Regions from separate parts of the Homo sapiens genome. Here region 1 is linked to region 2. Evidence: fine-mapped expression QTL. A gene starts in region 2. The other region holds a variant in brackets. All regions are shown on one strand. Distances are from middle to middle.

What was found. PIP is the estimated chance that this variant, and not a neighbour inherited with it, causes the effect.
Region 1: its variant is fine-mapped to the expression of PPP3CA in whole blood (TOPMed, PIP 0.97).

What each region holds. Positions count from the first base shown.
Region 1 is chr4:101,034,699-101,043,032 of GRCh38, forward strand. PPP3CA (protein phosphatase 3 catalytic subunit alpha) reads right to left here. Exons shown (of 14, transcript NM_000944.5): 11 at 5,784-5,868. Among named protein-coding and RNA genes, the nearest start is that of LINC01218, 160 kb to the left of the region's middle. RefSeq lists an enhancer at 5,982-6,601. The variant C/G (reference allele first, on the strand shown) is at 3,338.
Region 2 is chr4:101,344,095-101,352,428 of GRCh38, forward strand. It overlaps PPP3CA (protein phosphatase 3 catalytic subunit alpha), which reads right to left and starts at 3,432. Exons shown (of 14, transcript NM_000944.5): 1 at 2,645-3,432. The coding sequence starts at 2,702. It overlaps PPP3CA-DT (PPP3CA divergent transcript), which reads left to right and starts at 3,683. Exons shown (of 2, transcript NR_033874.1): 1 at 3,683-3,915; 2 at 4,230-4,789. RefSeq lists silencers at 1,818-2,207, 2,228-2,587, 3,058-3,667.

The DNA.
Region 1 (8,334 bases), 310 kb before region 2:
TGCAAAGTTTACTTAAAAATAATAGGTTTGAGATAATTAATTATTGTTTATTTTCATGCATGTATTTCAAACTTTTTAAGCTTCTGTGGTCTGTCAAACCACTAGAGGTCCCATGAAGAAATACATTGAATGATAATATGAGTTGGGAAAATTGGGAGTACCTCTAAAGAACGAACACAATTTTCTTTTACATTCATATTCAAAATATGGCTTTTGCCTCATGAGTGATTATAATTCCTACATACAAAATCTTGGTGTCAAATCCTGTATTAAATATGGGATTCAGGCTGGGCACCGTGGCTCATACCTGTAATTCCAGCACTTTGGGAGGCAGAGGTGGGCAGATCACTTGAGACCAGGAGTTTGAGACCAGCCTGGCCAACATGGTGAAACCTCGTCTCTACTAAAAAATATATAAAAATTAGCCGGGTGTGATGGCATGCTCCTGTAATCCCAGCTACTTGGGAGGCTGAGACATGAGAATTGCTCGAACCCAGGAGGTGGAGGTTGCAGTGAGCAGAGATCGTGCCACTGCACTCCAGCCAGAGCGCAAGAGCGAGACCGTCTTAAAACAAAACAAAACAAAAAAACAAAACCCCCCCAAAAACATGGGACTCATCAAAAAAAACAATTACAACCCATAATGCTCTGAGAAAGCCAAGTAAATTATTAGCTTTTTACCTACAAAACTCTTCTGGTAATCTGAAGTATTCTTTTTAATCTTCAAAATTTTAATTTTGTACCAACAGTAGGAAGATCTTTTTGGGAAATCACATCTTTGTGGGGGTCACACTCAGGCTAACATCTCAGTCATAAGACTGATGTTGGGACATCATTTAACTTTCTTGGGCTTCAGTTTCCTTATCTATAAAATCACAACTGTAATTATGGGATTTCCATGAAGATTAAATGATACACTGTTACAAAAGCCCCAGCATAGAAGATGGTCATTTTCCTTCCTTCCTTGCTCTTTTTTTCTTTCTTGTTCAACCACATTCCTTACTTCCCTTAATTGTGACTGCCATTCCTGCCTCACACGGAAGCCATGCCCTCAAAGGTTTCTAGCAGCTTCTTCATTTTTCAATTCCAACTATCTCTGCTGAATTCTCATTCAAACTGATATCTCTGCAGTAATTTCCTCTGATGACCATGCCCTCCGTCCTGAAAGACTCTTTGCCCTAGGTGTTGTAATGCTTTTTTCTCCTGCTTCTCCTTCTCCTTCTCTGACATCTTTTCAGTTCCTAGGCTGATCTTTTTCTTCTATCTCCAGATCCGTGCTTTCTAATATGTAGGCCCCAGTTACATGTGGCTGTTAACCACCTGAGACATGACTAGTCGAATTAAGATGTGCTGTAAGTGTAAAATACACATGGGATTTCAAAGATGTAGTACAAATATAAGAATAGAAAATGTCCCTTTAATAAGTGTTATATTGATCAAATGTCAAAGTGATAAAATTTTGGAGACTTGTGTTAAACAGACTGTATTATAATAATTTCTTTAGTTTCTGTTTCTACCCCTTTTACTGTGGTGTCTAGAAAATTTAAAATGACAGATGTGGCTCACATTTTATTTCTATTGGAAAGCAATGTTCTGAAGAATTCTTTATTTTTCTCCTCTCACTTTTCACGCTATCCTTTAGCAAGACCATCAGCTTACATTGCTGTACTCTTGTCTCTGTGTTGTTTACTCTCGTCTACATTTCTTTTTCTTTCTTTCTTTTTTTTTTTTGAGATGGAGTCTTGCTCTGCTGCCCAGGCTGGAGTGCAGTGGCGCAATCTCGGCTCACTGCAAGCCCCGCCTCCGGGGTTTATGGCAGTCTCCTGCCTCAGCCTCCTGAGTAGCTGGGACTACAGGCACCTGCCACCACGCCCAGCTAATTTTTTTGTATTTTCAGTAGAGATGGGGTTTCACCATGTTAGCCAGGATGGTCTCGATCTCCTGACCTCATGATCCACCCGCCTTGGCCTCCCAAAGTGTTGGGATTACAGGCGTGAGCCACCGCACCCAGCCTTATGTCCACATTTCTAACCCTCGCCTCTCTCTGAACCTCCAGGGCAGAATTTCTAAGTGCCTCTACATAAATGCTCTGCCAAATTCAGTGCATCCTACTCTTCCCGATAAATACCTGTTAGGTATTTAAATTGAAAAGTACTTCCTCTTCTTTAGACAATGGCATCCTATCAATGGCATAGACTGGAACCCCTGTAGAATATTCTGGAATACTTCCTCTCTCTTGTAGCCTCTCATATAGGTAAGGGTTCTCACAGCCAACACCGGAAATCTATTCTGGCTAATTTTAACAGGAAAGAGATATATTAAAGGTATTAGAGAGCTCACAGATCCAGAGAACTGGGCTTCGATGCTCTGTAGCTGGGAAGGGTAACAGTACTTGTTCATACTGTGGGGTGGGCTCCATGAAAGGCTTGCCACTGATGTTCACAGCCAATGCCAGAGCTCATACTAATGCTGTGTAGTTAGCTCCCAAAATGCTGAGGTGGAAGCTCTTCCACTGCTGGCCCATGAGATTCCACACCTGACAGGACAATTGTTGTCCTGCCTTGCTGCTTCCTCATGATGCTCAATTTGAAACAAAGCCTTGCTTACATGCATTTATCTGACTGGCAAACCCTAGGCAACAGACTTGTATTTTATCTGCAAGGACTGCTGAAAGACAGTTTTCTGGTTCCCTTATAAGGTTGCACATTTCCAAAACGTAAGAAACATGTTGGGCAAGTATACCTGACAAATTTGTACCACATTCCACATTCATTAATCACGTCCTGTTTTCCCAAATTCCTTGTATTTGTCCTTTCCTTTGCACTTCTCTCCCCATAGCCTGGTCCAGCCTTTTGCTGGGATTACTTCAAAAGCTTCCTAAATGGTTTTTTTTTTTAATTTACATTTTATTTTATATTTATTCACTTTTTTCATTATCCATACGTCACCTTGCTAGCCAATCTTCACGTTGCAATTAACATGTATAGTGAAACATGGGTTAGAGCATGCCTCTAATCTCACGAAAATAATTCTACAACTCCTGATTGCCTACACACACAAAAATTAAATGTTTTAACATGCTATTCAAAACACTCAAGGATATGGACTTCAGTATATTTTCAGTCTCCTTTTAAACTAGATTCCTCACTCACCTTCATGTCTTTTGCTAGTCAGTCCTTTAATACATTTAGAATTCATTACTAGACTACTAGTATTGCTAAGAATTTATACTAGACTACATAGCACAGTTTTGAGTAAGACTCTCATTAGTGTTGCTCCCCAACTGAGGGAGTTTGGACACTCTGCTTAGCCTCTCTCAGATTCAATTTCCTCACAG[C/G]AAAGTGAAGTCACCACAACCTTGCAAGCTTCCTGTGTCGATGATTGTCAAATGTGCATAACATGGGGCATGAACCTGGCACTTAGCAAGTGCCCCATAAAAGGATGCCATTGATAGTGCTCTTAGGATTGTGTGGCTGTGCTCCTGATAATTTTTCCACTTCCAGGAATGCCTTCACCACATCTCTCCCTGCCCTGGAATCCAGCCTATCCTTCACAGCACTCCTCCAATTTTAACCTCTTTATGAACACTCCAGTCAGGAAACACAAGGTTCCTTCCTGTCTAATGCCACAGCAGGGTATCTATTCATGTAGTTATTTAGCACACACTTTTTTTTTCTTTTTTTTTTTTTGAGATGGAGTCTTGCTCTGTCACCCAGGCTGGAGTGCAGTGGCGCGATCTCGGCTTACTGCAACCTCCGCCTCCTGGGTTTGAGAGATTCTCCTGCCTCAGCCTCCTGAGTAGCTGGGATTACAGGCACGTGTCACCATGCCCGGCTAATTTTCGTATTTTTAGTAGAGACAGGGTTTCTCCATGTTGCTCAGGCTGGTCTCGAACTTCTGACCTTGTGATCTGCCTACCTCGGCCTCCCAAAGTGCTGGGATTACAGGCGTGAGCCACCACGCCCGGCCACTTTATTTTCTTTTGTTAGTTTATTGTCTATCTGGCTGGCATTCCAATTTGGTATCTAGATTGCCTAATTCAGTGCATGGTATACAGTTAATGCTCAATCATTATTTACTAAGCTTAACTTACTTTTTTCTGGATAGGATCTCTCTATATTCTGCATATGTGTTATGGATGCTTTTATTATAGAAAAACAATAATATAGAGCTTGCTTTTATTTTCTATTAACATGTGCAATTTTAAGTCAAGTCACTCATCACTGGGTTCAAATAGTCCATTTATCACGGGATAGTCATGGAAATTCTAGAGCTGTTTTTACTTTCCCTCAGAGACTTCAGACAGAATAAGAAATAAAAGCATTATTGGTAAATCTGAGGCACAATAAATAAACAAGTGTTTACTCAGAATTCCAATTAAGCTTATGACCTTCATATACGCCTTTGTCCCCACAGAACATTTTTCTAGCCATACAGGCCTCCTTGTGGTCCTCAAAACTGCCAGTTTTGTCTTTACTTAAGTATCTTTGCACTTGCTATTGTCTTTGCCTTGAACTCCCTTACCTCATTTCTTCATGAAGGTCACCTATGCTTGCCCAAATACCATTACTCAGAAAGTTTTTTGTTGACCACACACTAAAAGAAGTTCTTTATCTCCCACTTGCTCCATCTCTACATTGCCTTATTTCTTTTCTCCATGGTACATAATCAATGCTTTAAGTTTCACTATATTTACTTATGGCATGAATGAATAAGCCCTGAAAATGTAGTTGGAAACGTACAGCAATAGAGCAAAGGTAGCCTCATTCAATAACGGAAGGGAGCAATGATGCCCTATTTTCCGCTTGAACATGGCTGGTCGTGAATGTGCTGGCTACCACAGAGTTCTCACTGCCTTTGATGTGGTGTCTCTGAGAGAGCATGATAATGCTTTTCATCCTTCTCATGGCTACCTCTTTTGGCATTAAGTCATTCAGTTACTCTTTAGTGACTGTACCAGGAAGAGGATAGAAATAGCAAGAGGAGAAATCAAAAGAGCCAGTGTCGATACTCTATGAGAAAGAGTTGGGGCAAAAATTTGGCAAAAAATTTGATTATTAAATTATCCAATTGTAGATGTAATATTTCCCAAGGTGTTCCTATTTACTCGCTAATATGTATCATTTTGAATTGACTGTAGACTCCTTACATATAAATATATCATATTTTAAAGTAATCTTTTGAAGAGAAATGTTACATTGTATTATTTAGAAATAACTGGAGTTTCCTTCAAGAAAATATTTGTTTTCTAAATTAATGCTTAATAATAATAATATGATTCATAATCTACAAAATATACTACTATATGGAAATTGAAACAGTAATTTTTCTCTCAATAATTAGAATAACATAGATTCACATGAACAGCTTTATGGCTGATGTTCATTTCCTAGAAATCTAGTGAAATGTGTCTGATAAATACATCTTTCACCACGAGCCAGAACGAAAAACAAAACAAAAAAAATTACAATAGCTTTTCCTGTTTCCTAAGATATTCAACCTACCGTGAAATCAATGTTTTAAAGTCCTATAGCAAATAGAGGAATAAAATGTGATGCAATTCGAGACTTTCTTAACAGAAATAATTTAGTAGATTGCAATTTAACTAAAATAGTGAGAAACTGACAATTTCTCATTTAATTTTCCTCAATTTTTAATCTAAAAGGAAAAAAAGACAAATATTCTCTAGTAAAATATTTAAATTACCAGATGAAAGTATTAAAGTATTTATTAGGTGACACATAATACAATTTGAAACAAAAACAGAGTACGAATGCACCCACCTGAGCACTGAGAACACTCTGGCCATTTTGCCTATTGCTCGGATCTTGTTCCTTATCACCTCTTTCCGGGCTGCAGCTGTTGCACCTGTATTTTCAAACAGAGTTCAGTGGTCAGTAATTTTTTATCTAATTGTAATTGATTTTACACATTTACACATACAACAGACTCCAGTAAGCAAAATCAGTATTTTTTTTTTTTCCCCCTTAAGAGGATTTATCTGTAAATCAAATTTGAAAATTTAAGCTTTTGGCCACCAATACTAGGATGTGATTTTTGAGAGGTCCCCATAGTGCCAAAGAAAAACTTTCGAGATATCCAGAGGGGAGGTGAGTAAGAAGCTAACTGGAAAATCACTGAGCAGAGAGGGGTAGGTTCCTATCCTCCTCTTCCAATTGACTTTCCCCTTCTTTTCTATTTATACAGAGACCACGCATTGGGAGGAAGAGTTAAGTACCTTATCACCATCTTCTATTCATTTGCAGTCTCCATGCTGGGAAAACTACTTTAGGAAACTGCTTTTCCAAAAGTTCTCCTTTGATGTGATTAAACTAAGAAGTCTCTTAATTCCCTATCTGCCTTGCAACATCATTCATAATTATTTGATGATGATTGTTTGAGTACTTGATACTCTTTCATCTTCTGGTTGGTTCATGAGTTCTAGAGAAAAGAGTAGAGAACTGCTAAATTGGATTTAGTAAGAGACAATGGCACCATGGTTTGCATTTTAGTACTATTTTTGAAAGTTATGCATGGTTTTTCTGGGTAAGTCTTACCACTTGTTACATTTTCTAAATTAAAAAAATTAATTACATAGATTATTGTTACAAATAAACATATTATTTTAAAATAATGTTTTAAAGTAATACTTCAATGAGCCCATTTTATTTTTTCTTTTAATTCCCGAGGTACATTGGAAGAAGTATAAAACAGAAAAAATACCTCACAAATTTTTTTTTTTTTTTTTTTTTTTGAGACAGAGTCTCGCTCTGTCACCCAGGCTGGAGTGTAGTGGTGCGATTTCGGCTCACTGCAACCTCTGCCTCCCAGGTTCAAGTGATTTTCCTGCCTCAGCCTCCCAAGTAGCTGGCACAGGCATGTGCCACCAGGCCCAGCTAACTTTTTTTGTATTTTTAGTAGAGACAGGCTTCACCAGGTTGGTCAGGCTGGTCTCAAGCTCCTGACCTCAAATGACCTGCCTGCCTCAGCCTCCCAAAGTGCTGGGATTACAAGTGTGAGCCACCGCACCTGGTCAAGATTTTTATAATCCAAGGTAAAATGGATAAGCTATCCTTTTTATTCATTATGTGGGATTTTATAGAAAGCATTAACACAAGCAGATCGTCTAATTCTACTGCCTCTAATAGATATACAACAGAATATTCTTTTCAAATAATAACAGAAATGTTCCTAATCCAAATGAACAGTTTGAGTCAAGTAATTTGCTCAGGGACGGTAGTCTATAGATGATAACTGGTATGTGTTTTGGTCTTTTATTATAATTTGTGGTAACAGCAAGCTTTCACAGAAGGGTTTTGAAAAAAAGATTTCTACTGTTTCCCTTAGAGGGCTTTTATGAACACCATTTCTAATCTATTTGATTGTGTGGATCAATTAATATGCCAACATTTCCATGAGAAAGAAAACTTGTACAACACACACAATTTTGAAATGGCTAGAAAAAAGGTCTTTGCTTTTTTTTTTTTTTTTTTTTGCCCTCCACTCCAAGAAAGTGAAAACATATGGGTCACTTTCTTTGCCTGGGTGGGTAATCTTTCAGAGGTGATGCTAACACAAACCCATCTCATAGGTGCATGGGTGTTCCCCAGAGGGTGTGTGAAAACCAGCAAGCTGGTTTCCTCCCACCTTCCCTCTGCCCTGAAAACAGCCTACATTTGTGTCCATTTCTTCCTCTCTTGTGGCAACTATGCCATGGCAGGCACCTTTCAACATATCCAATGGGAAGGACTTATTATTGCCAGCTATTCTACCTGCAAATGGGTGGAATAAGTGTCTATCCATGTGGGAGACAGCTGTTCTCAGATCTAGCTGTTCTGATAATTAAGCAAAACCATGGGTTCTCATTCACTGTAAGTTCCTTGAATTATTAATTAGTCTCTCGGTCAGAACACTGGGGAGGAAAATAGGGTGTGTGCAGGATCCCTACCTCTAATCGTATTCTGATTTTGTAAACAATATTAATTATCTATGATTTGTAATTAAGATTATACATCAAATTCTGCTCTGGAGACCATCTAAAATTGAATTCTCTGTGCTTGGATTTTAGATGATTAATGAACAAGAGACCATGAAAAGACTTTTTCTTTTTTTTTTTTTTTTTTTAAAGTGGGATGGCAAATAGTCCCCTTAGGGTGGTCTTCCTATACATGTATATATATATTTCAGTTATTCCATTCAATGATGCTTTCAGTCTAACATTGTCCTATTACTACTCTATGTTTAAAATTCCCTACCTCAACTGACCTGTGAACTCAGGGGTCATGATGTGCTGAGTAAGGGAAAATATTCTGGCTCTCTCCAATAAACAATATG
Region 2 (8,334 bases):
TCTGTATTAAAGAATGAGTTAAATAGCCATTGAGATGAAGTTCTAACAAAATTTCAAGTAAATAATGGTTTCTAAACTCCATATTATCTAATTTTTGCAAATTAAATCACTTGTTAATATGTTTCACATCCAGCATACGCGTACTTTCCATTCATTCAGTACGTGTATACATACTCAAGGGGAAATATTATTTCACAGAAAGCTAATAATCAAAATAGATTATCTCAAATAACTAATAATAAAAATCTTATGTATGACAAAAGGTTGAATCCAACCTTGTATAATGCCTTTCATGCCAATAATATTCTACAAGAAAACAGGATAAACAATAACAGTGTATCCACCTTAAAATCAGGATTCATCAACAAAACTTCTATAAACAAAATTTCACATTTCACATCTCACATCAGGATCTCTATCAAAACAAATGCAAAATTAACTTTTCCTATTTTGAGTCTACTATCCACATAGTATGTGAATAAAATTTTTTAAATTATGGGTGAGTGTGTGTACCTAAAATGAAAAGTCATTTATAATGGTACAGTATTGAAAAAAAGCAAGGCAAAGTAGCCTTGGAATGGTTGAGTGGGCTCTTCCATTTTAAGCAGTAGAGAAACTAAGCCAGAAAGTATAAACATTTATTTTTACATGTTCACCTGATGACTTTACACCTACATTAAGAATCCACATCCTATGATTTAAAACAGGGAATGTGACCTTATGTGTGCACAAGTGTTTTTTTAATTGCCAACACGTTCACTAGTATCATTTGAATTATAAGCTTTACATTGTTTTGATCTTAACCTAGATTGGAGCTACATCTAAACTTCACACATTAAGGAGATAATTGTCATTCTCTGATATTTCTGCAAAGGGTCTCAATTTTTGAAAATGTCAACAGAAGCCTTTCATGCAAAACACAGCTCTCTCAAATAAATGTGAATGGACTGTTTCCATGAAAATCCATGCCTGCAGGAAAAATAAAATAGCTGTGCATCTCTCTGCAGCCCTATTTCGAATCATTTTTGCAGAGCTATTTCCTCATTATTTTCATGGGTATATGAATCCTGCACCGAAGCTGAAGCAGGAATGATTCCAGTAAAACCAAAACAAAAGAAGATATTTTGTTCTTTCTGAAAAAAGGGAACGTAATTTCCCCCATCACCACCACCACTCACACAGAAAAATTACTTTAAAAACTGAGTAAACCTCTAAGGAGAAAGAATCATTTCTGAAACCCCAGAGGGACTTGTGTATCATGGTCTTTGGGCTGCTGGGTTACTTCACTTTTAAGTGCTCATGGTGCAAACGACTTGATTGCCTTGCACTCTAGTTGCATGCTCTGGCCACATTAGATACCATCTCTGTTCTACACACAACACACACACATTACACCAGCCAGTGCTGTTTCCAATTTCAGAGGCCCGCTCCCCGCACAGCTCATGCCCATCTCTGCTTTGCTTGGTGTCCTGACCCCCAGGAATGTGAGATACTACTTAATCCAAGTGGTTCTGCTCTGTTGCCTCAGCCTTCCAGGATTCATAGGATGGTTCCTCCCCCACTACACCTAGGAATACAAGGAGGCCGATAGATTCCCGTGCGACAGAGTGATCAACCACAGCCTGTCCCCTTCCTCACTCCGCACATCCCAGTTTCTCTTTGCCAGCAACCTCAGTGCATCCTTGCCAGGAGTTTATCATCCCGTAGGCGGCGAAGAGGAGGCAATAATAGGAATCCAACAGCCCGTTACAAAAAGGATGCCAGGGCACGGAGGAAGCAGGCGGAATGAGGTTATCACTTGGGAGGTGTGCACGAGTGGAGAACCCTTTAAGAGCAATGACAGGTCGGCGGGGGACAGCCGGGGATGGCAAGAGAGGCTGGAGAAGTGGTTTTCGTGTCTCTCCCCGGGGCGTGCGGGGGAAATCCCGGGGCGGCAACGGCTGGTGCTCTCAGGTCGTTCCCCGCCTCCCGCGCCCCCCGCGGCCACCCTCCAGCCAGCGACCGCCCCCGCCCCCGCCCCGCGCGGAAGGAAGCGCCGGGCTCCCCCCACGCTCTCCCGCTCTCTCGCGAGTCCTGTGCAGGCCCTTCCAGGGGGAGGGGGAGGGGGAGGGGGGCGCGGAGGGAATTGCTGCAATGGAGCTCCAAGACAACCCTGCCCAAGTGAGGCAGTCGGTGGAAAGCCACGGCCACATAAAAATGCCGTATTAATTTTTAAAAAGCCATCAATCACCCCTCCCTCTGCAGAAGAAAACCATAAACCCGATCCCATGCAAGCCTGTGAGCAGAGCCACCCACTTCCTATTTCTGTCACAGCAGCTACACCCTACCAGCAACCACCCCCCGGGCGCCCCCTCCCACCACCGCCACCCCCGCCGCCACCTCCCCGCGGCTCAGCCATTTGCCAACTGACGCCCCCGTCAATAAAAATGCCCCAAGTGAGGCTGGGTGGGACGCGTGGGGGAAGGGCGCCGCGGGGGCGGGGGGTTCGCGGGGTTCGCGGGTTGCACAATATCCTAGAAGGTCCGCGGCTGGAGCGGACAGAGGAGAACCTGGGGCGGGGGAGGGGAGGAAAGGCGAGGCGAGGCAAGCTGCCCTGGCGCCTGCGGCACACGGTGCACCCAGGCCACCGCGGCGCTCCGCTTACCTTTCACCACCCTGTCGGTCGTCGACAACTTGGGATCAATTGCCTTGGGCTCGGACATCTCCAGCTGCCGGAGGACAGCGACGCGCTGCTCGTCCGTCCGACTGCACACCCCGACCGGACCGGCGGGCCAGACACTCAACGCCGCCGCCGCCGCCGCCGCCGCCGCGCTGCAAACCGCTCGGCTGGAGGTCTAGGCTCTGAGCTGGCTTTAAAGTTGCTGCCTTTTCCGCGCGTCCCTCCTCCGCCGCCGCCGCCTTCACTCCTCCTCCGCCGCTGCCGCCAGCCCCGCCGACTCGCTCCGGGCTGCGCGTGTGTGGTGGTTATTTATTTATTTTCTGAGCACGCCTCCCGGTTCTTCTTTTATTCTTGGGGGAAGGGGGATGGGGAGGAGAAGCGCACACACGAGCACCCACCCCGGCACGGAGACCCAGCACCGCGGAATGGAGCCCCACGCGCGCACACACGGCCAGGATTAAGACCGATCACATGGGGAAGGCCGGGGGCGAGGGAGGAGAGGCAGGGCCGCCGATGTCAGTGCCACCAGCCGCACCTTGGCGTCCCCGGCGGCGGAGAGGCGGCCGCCGCTGCTGCCGCTGCTGCTGCCGCTGCCGCTGTTGCTGCTGCCGCTGCCCCTGCTTCTCCACACAGAGCGCCGCCGCTGGTGCCGCGGCCGCCGGAGACGTCCCGCCGCCGCGATCGCCCGCGCTCGCCTCTGCCTCCCCGCGCCGCTCCTCCACTCACCAAGGCACAGCCGCCGAGCTCGGCAGACACAGTCCCGGGCACAACCTACCCCCCTCCGCCGCCGCCGCCGCCGCCAACACCGCGCCCGCCTCCGCCTCCTCCCCTTCCTCCTCCCGGCCCCCGCCTCTTGCGCGCCTGCAGCCTCCTCCTCCCCACTGAGCCCGCCCCCGACCTCCCGCCCCGACGCCGGAGTTCCTCGCGTTCATTGGCTAGAGGGCGCATCACTCAGTGCCAGGTGGCGGCCTCCCCGCTTGTCCCGCCTCCCGCTCCTCCTCATTGTCCCCGCCCCTTGCTCTGTTTTCTTCCAGCTGCCGGACCAGCGGGCCTGCCGCCTCTACGGACCAGTCCCTGCTCAGGTGTCACTTTTGCTGGCAGGCCGAGATTAGGGCAGGAGAGTGGGCAAGGCGTCGCGGCCAGGAGGAGAAGGGCTCTACCACGCCACCCTCCTTTGGCCTCCGAACGCGGACCCCGCACACACACACCCGCGCCTCTTTGGCAAGCGTGCCTTGTCGGCTGGGTTAAGCCGCAGTGTGAGTAGCCAAGTGCAGAGGGTGTCTCCGGGTGTGTGCGTGGCCCACAAGAGGGCAAGAAGAGAGAAGGCGGGGATAGGAGGGAAGAGGGTGGGGGTGAGAGGCAGCCCTGAGAGGGCGGAGGAAGGAAGAGGCTGGGAGCTCGGCGCCCGCGGCGCAGCTGCCGTCGCTGCCGCAGCTGTCCAGGGAGGATCGCCAAAACGGCGACGAATAAACAACTTACCTTGCGGAGAAGAGCTACGACTGCGATGCGGTGTACGGTTGTTTTTGCTTTTGCGTTGGCGGCTTAGGGGCTGTTACTGTGTCCCACCCAGGCGTGCACACCGAGCGGCGGGGCGCTGTGGAACGCGGGAGCGGACTAGCGGAGGAGGATGCGGACCAAGCCCCAGCGACCCAGGGCAACTCGGAGCTACCTCGGGCAGCCCTGCGGGTCTCCGAGGAGAACCGAGGAGACGGGAGAAACATGGGAGAGGGTGGCCTTTTCCCTGTTCACACACACATGCACGCAGCCACTGGCCGGGACAGTTGACACCCATCTTCCTTCCCTGCTCCTTCCAGTCATTCTACACCCGCTTGGTGCTGCCAGTGCGGGCAGGGCCTTGGAGCCCAAAGCGGATCCCCACACTTGTCCCTACGGTCGGAAGGAAAGTAGAGGAGAGAAAGTCAGGCGCGGCAGGGCTAAGAGCAATAGTGGCCCAAATGTTCCTGGCCCGCCTGCTGCGCCACAGAGTCTGAAAAGCGGGTCTCCGTCTACCAGAAGGTGACCTCCACACAGCCCCTCTCCCCGACCAACTGCAGCACCCAAGGACTGGCAACGTGGTTGGAGCTTTTGGGGGGAATTATGAAGAAATCTGAATAAATTTCTCACCCTTCATGTTTCCTGTTTTATTTCCAAAGTCCTTCAGTATCAGGTTTTTCCTATTTCCTCAATTGGACCACGGGTCCAATAAAAGGTTTAAAATACACACACACACACACACACACACACACACACACAAAGAAAACAAAAACAAAAAAAAAAGTTTAGGGAGCTGGGAGATGAAGCCAAAAGAAATGTTTTGGAGACAAGGATTAGATTAAAGCTCAAACTTGAAAATCAATTTTGAGTAAGAGACTGATTGTGCTGCAGCGTGACTTTGATGTGGACTGCACGGAATAGAAACACACACTAGATACCTCTGTGGAGGCCTAGCAAAAGGAGCAGACGCAGGGTGTGTCCCACCAAGATAGGGAGGCTGCCACTGGCACTGAGATTCTGCTGCCCAATTTCCAACCCCAGGATACTGGGTGGCAATTAGACAATTCATTCAATAAAGATATTTTCTGTACTCCTTTTATTTATATGCCAGACTTTGTGGTGGGTAATTAGGTGGGGAGGGAGTGTATTTGAAAATTGTCCTTGCCCTCAATAAAGCCTAAAATTTTCAGAGAACATAAAATTATGAGCTCTGAGAGGTCACTGTAATCTCAGGAAGGGGTTGTTGGAAACAGCCTCCTGAGCACGGGCAGAGCTAGTTGCTAAGGCAGATTTGGGAAGTTGGTCCCTGGCCAGATGGCACACAGGGAGCGATGCCAAGACCTGTGGGTGAAGAGGGCCTGCTTCAGAAAGACCAGGAAACCATGTCCAGGGATGCTCATTTCCAAGGCCAAGACATTCTCTCCTACATATTAGAAAAAAATGAAGTTCCCACCTTTATTTGGAATAACTTTTTACTAGGTATAGGATAAACATCTTTGAACCAAGATCAGAAGGCTTAAAATGTCAGCACCATATAAAATTACATGATACAGATAGGAAATAAAGGCACACCTTTCAGGCACACCCTTTAGTCCGCTACAAGTCTAGGACACCTCCTAGCTAAGGTATGTATGGGAAGAAAAAGTTATGACTCACAATCACTTCCCAACACATTATCAACATGAACTTTTAATGCCTGTGTATGATTCCATAACTGCTGCAACACTGACACCTCTTAAACAAAATTGGATCCTGCTCTAAGGAAACAGGACGGCAGCATATTAACTAGGGACTACTTGTGTTCATACACCTGACCTCCTGAAGTAGACAGACAGATCATCTTTTTTATTCGGTTACTGTTTCAGATGTCCTACCCTCTCCTACTGCCATTCTTTTTCTGTCCTGTCCAGAGATCCCCAACCTTTTTGGCACCAGGGACTGGTTTCGCGGAAGACAATTTTCCCATGGATGGTGGTTGGGGGTGGTTTCAGGATAAAACTGTTCCACCTCAGATCGTCAAGCATTAGATTCTCATAAGGAGCGGGCAAGCTAGATCCCTTGCATGCACGGTTCACAGTAAGGTTTGCACTCCTATGGGAATCTAATGCCACTGCTGATCTGACAGGAGGTAGAGCTCAGGCAGTAATGTTTGCTCACTCTGCTGCAGATCTCCTGCTGTACAGTCCAGTTCCTAATAGGCCACAGACTGGTACTGTTCTGTGGCCCAGGGGTTGGGAACCTCCGTGTTAGACTGCCCTAGCAGTCCATAATTATATTACTGCTTGCATGAGAATACTTTATATTTGGAATTTACATTTTGAAGGGGTTACTTCAGTTCCCAGATGCTGACTTTGGCAATGTCCTGCTTATCAAGAAATAGGAGGGGGGAAAAGCTTGAAAAAAGACAACTTTTTGTCTACCAAAAAAATGTGTTTTCCCTCCCTTAGTATAATTCACTCTGGGAAGTGTCTGCCCAGAGAGGGATTCCCATTTCTAGCCTGACCCTTCTTTCCTCGAAGAAGGTCCATGTGACCAGTTCTGATCAATGGACTGTGGACTAAGATGGTTGGTCACTCTCAGGACAAGGCAGTTAAGCAGTAGATATACATTTTCTAGTCTATGGGCTCCCATCCTTAGCGGAATGCAGAGACTTCTAAGACCCAGGGCAGGCAGAACCCCAGAGACAAAGACGAGAGTCCCTTAATTACCACATAGAGGAATACTACCCAGTTACTAAGAAAATAGGCATTAGGCTTTACTCATTTATTGTGTTACTCCATTACAATGTGGAGATATGTTTGTTAGACTAGTTAATATTACCAAATTAATATACGAAAGTAATATGTTAGTTCCAAAAGTACATTCCTTAGCAAAACCTAGAATTATTGTTTTACTGTAATATAAGAGAACTACCAGAAGACTAAAAATACTCTTACTTCTTTTAATACATGAGCATCAAATCTTAATTCTCTGTTAATGAATATTCTTTGACCACACCTGTTCTGTGCCCTATGCTACATGATGCATAAAATGTAGGGAGTAAAGAAGGATTCAGAGATTTTGTTCCTTCATTCAAGGATTTAAAAGTCTTGTTATATGATCATTAGATATATATTATATTTGCAAACATTTATGTATAAGGTGCTACTTCCTCTTTCTATTGGAGAAGAAAAACTATTAGATTTATCAAAAGTAATTATGAAGATAAATATGTGGGCAAAAAAAGAAAATATTGTGGATTTGGAGTCATCTGTGCATTTAAGTGCTCCACAGAGCAAGCTTCCATTGGTGCAAATCACAGTAAATTAAGTACATTTTAGTATACTATTAAGTGCTTTATCAGATGTTTTAGTTTTAAAAATAAAATAAAATATTGTATGTTATATTCTGTTTTGAAAATAACAGGCTTTCAAAATTTTGAACTTGTATTTGGTTCTTGGATGAATTTATTATCATTTGGACATTACGGTTGAGTAGTAACTTCTGATTATGGCTGGGCATGGTGGCTTACGCCTGTAATCCCAGCACTTTGGGAGGCCGAGGCAGGTGGATCACGAGCTCAGGAGTTCGAGACCAGCCTGCCCAATATGGTGAAACCCCGTCTCTACTAAAAATACAAAAATTAACCAGGCGTGGTGGTGTGTGCCTGTAGTCCCAGCTACTCGGGAGGATGAGACAGAAGAATTGCTTGAACTCAGGAAGCAGAGATTGCATTGAGCTGCAATCATGCCACTGCACTCCAGCTTCGGTGACAGAGTGAGACTCCATCTCAAAAAAAAATAAAAATAAAAAAAAACTTCTGATTATGACTCTTCTGAGGCATTCACTTTTTTCTGAGTAGCTGATGGTAGACAGCAGTATGTCTGCTCTATCCTCACTTAAGTTAGTGGAGCACAATGCTGAGGAACCTGCAAAGTAGGACAGTCAATCCTGATAGGGCCATGAATGTATATGAGACTTTGATTTATTATCTTAAAGCTAATTCCTGTGACATTTCCTTCTCACATTTTCTAGTTCTACCCTACTTCCATAGAGGTTCTATGAAATATGCTATTCTACATAGATCTAATTTGAGGTTCAAACTAAAAGGAAGTTTTATTACCTATTTTTTTATTGCTCTTGAAATTTTGTTGAGCCTTGTTTCTTTCAGAAGGCAGTTTTACCCATTTAAAGAAGTTATT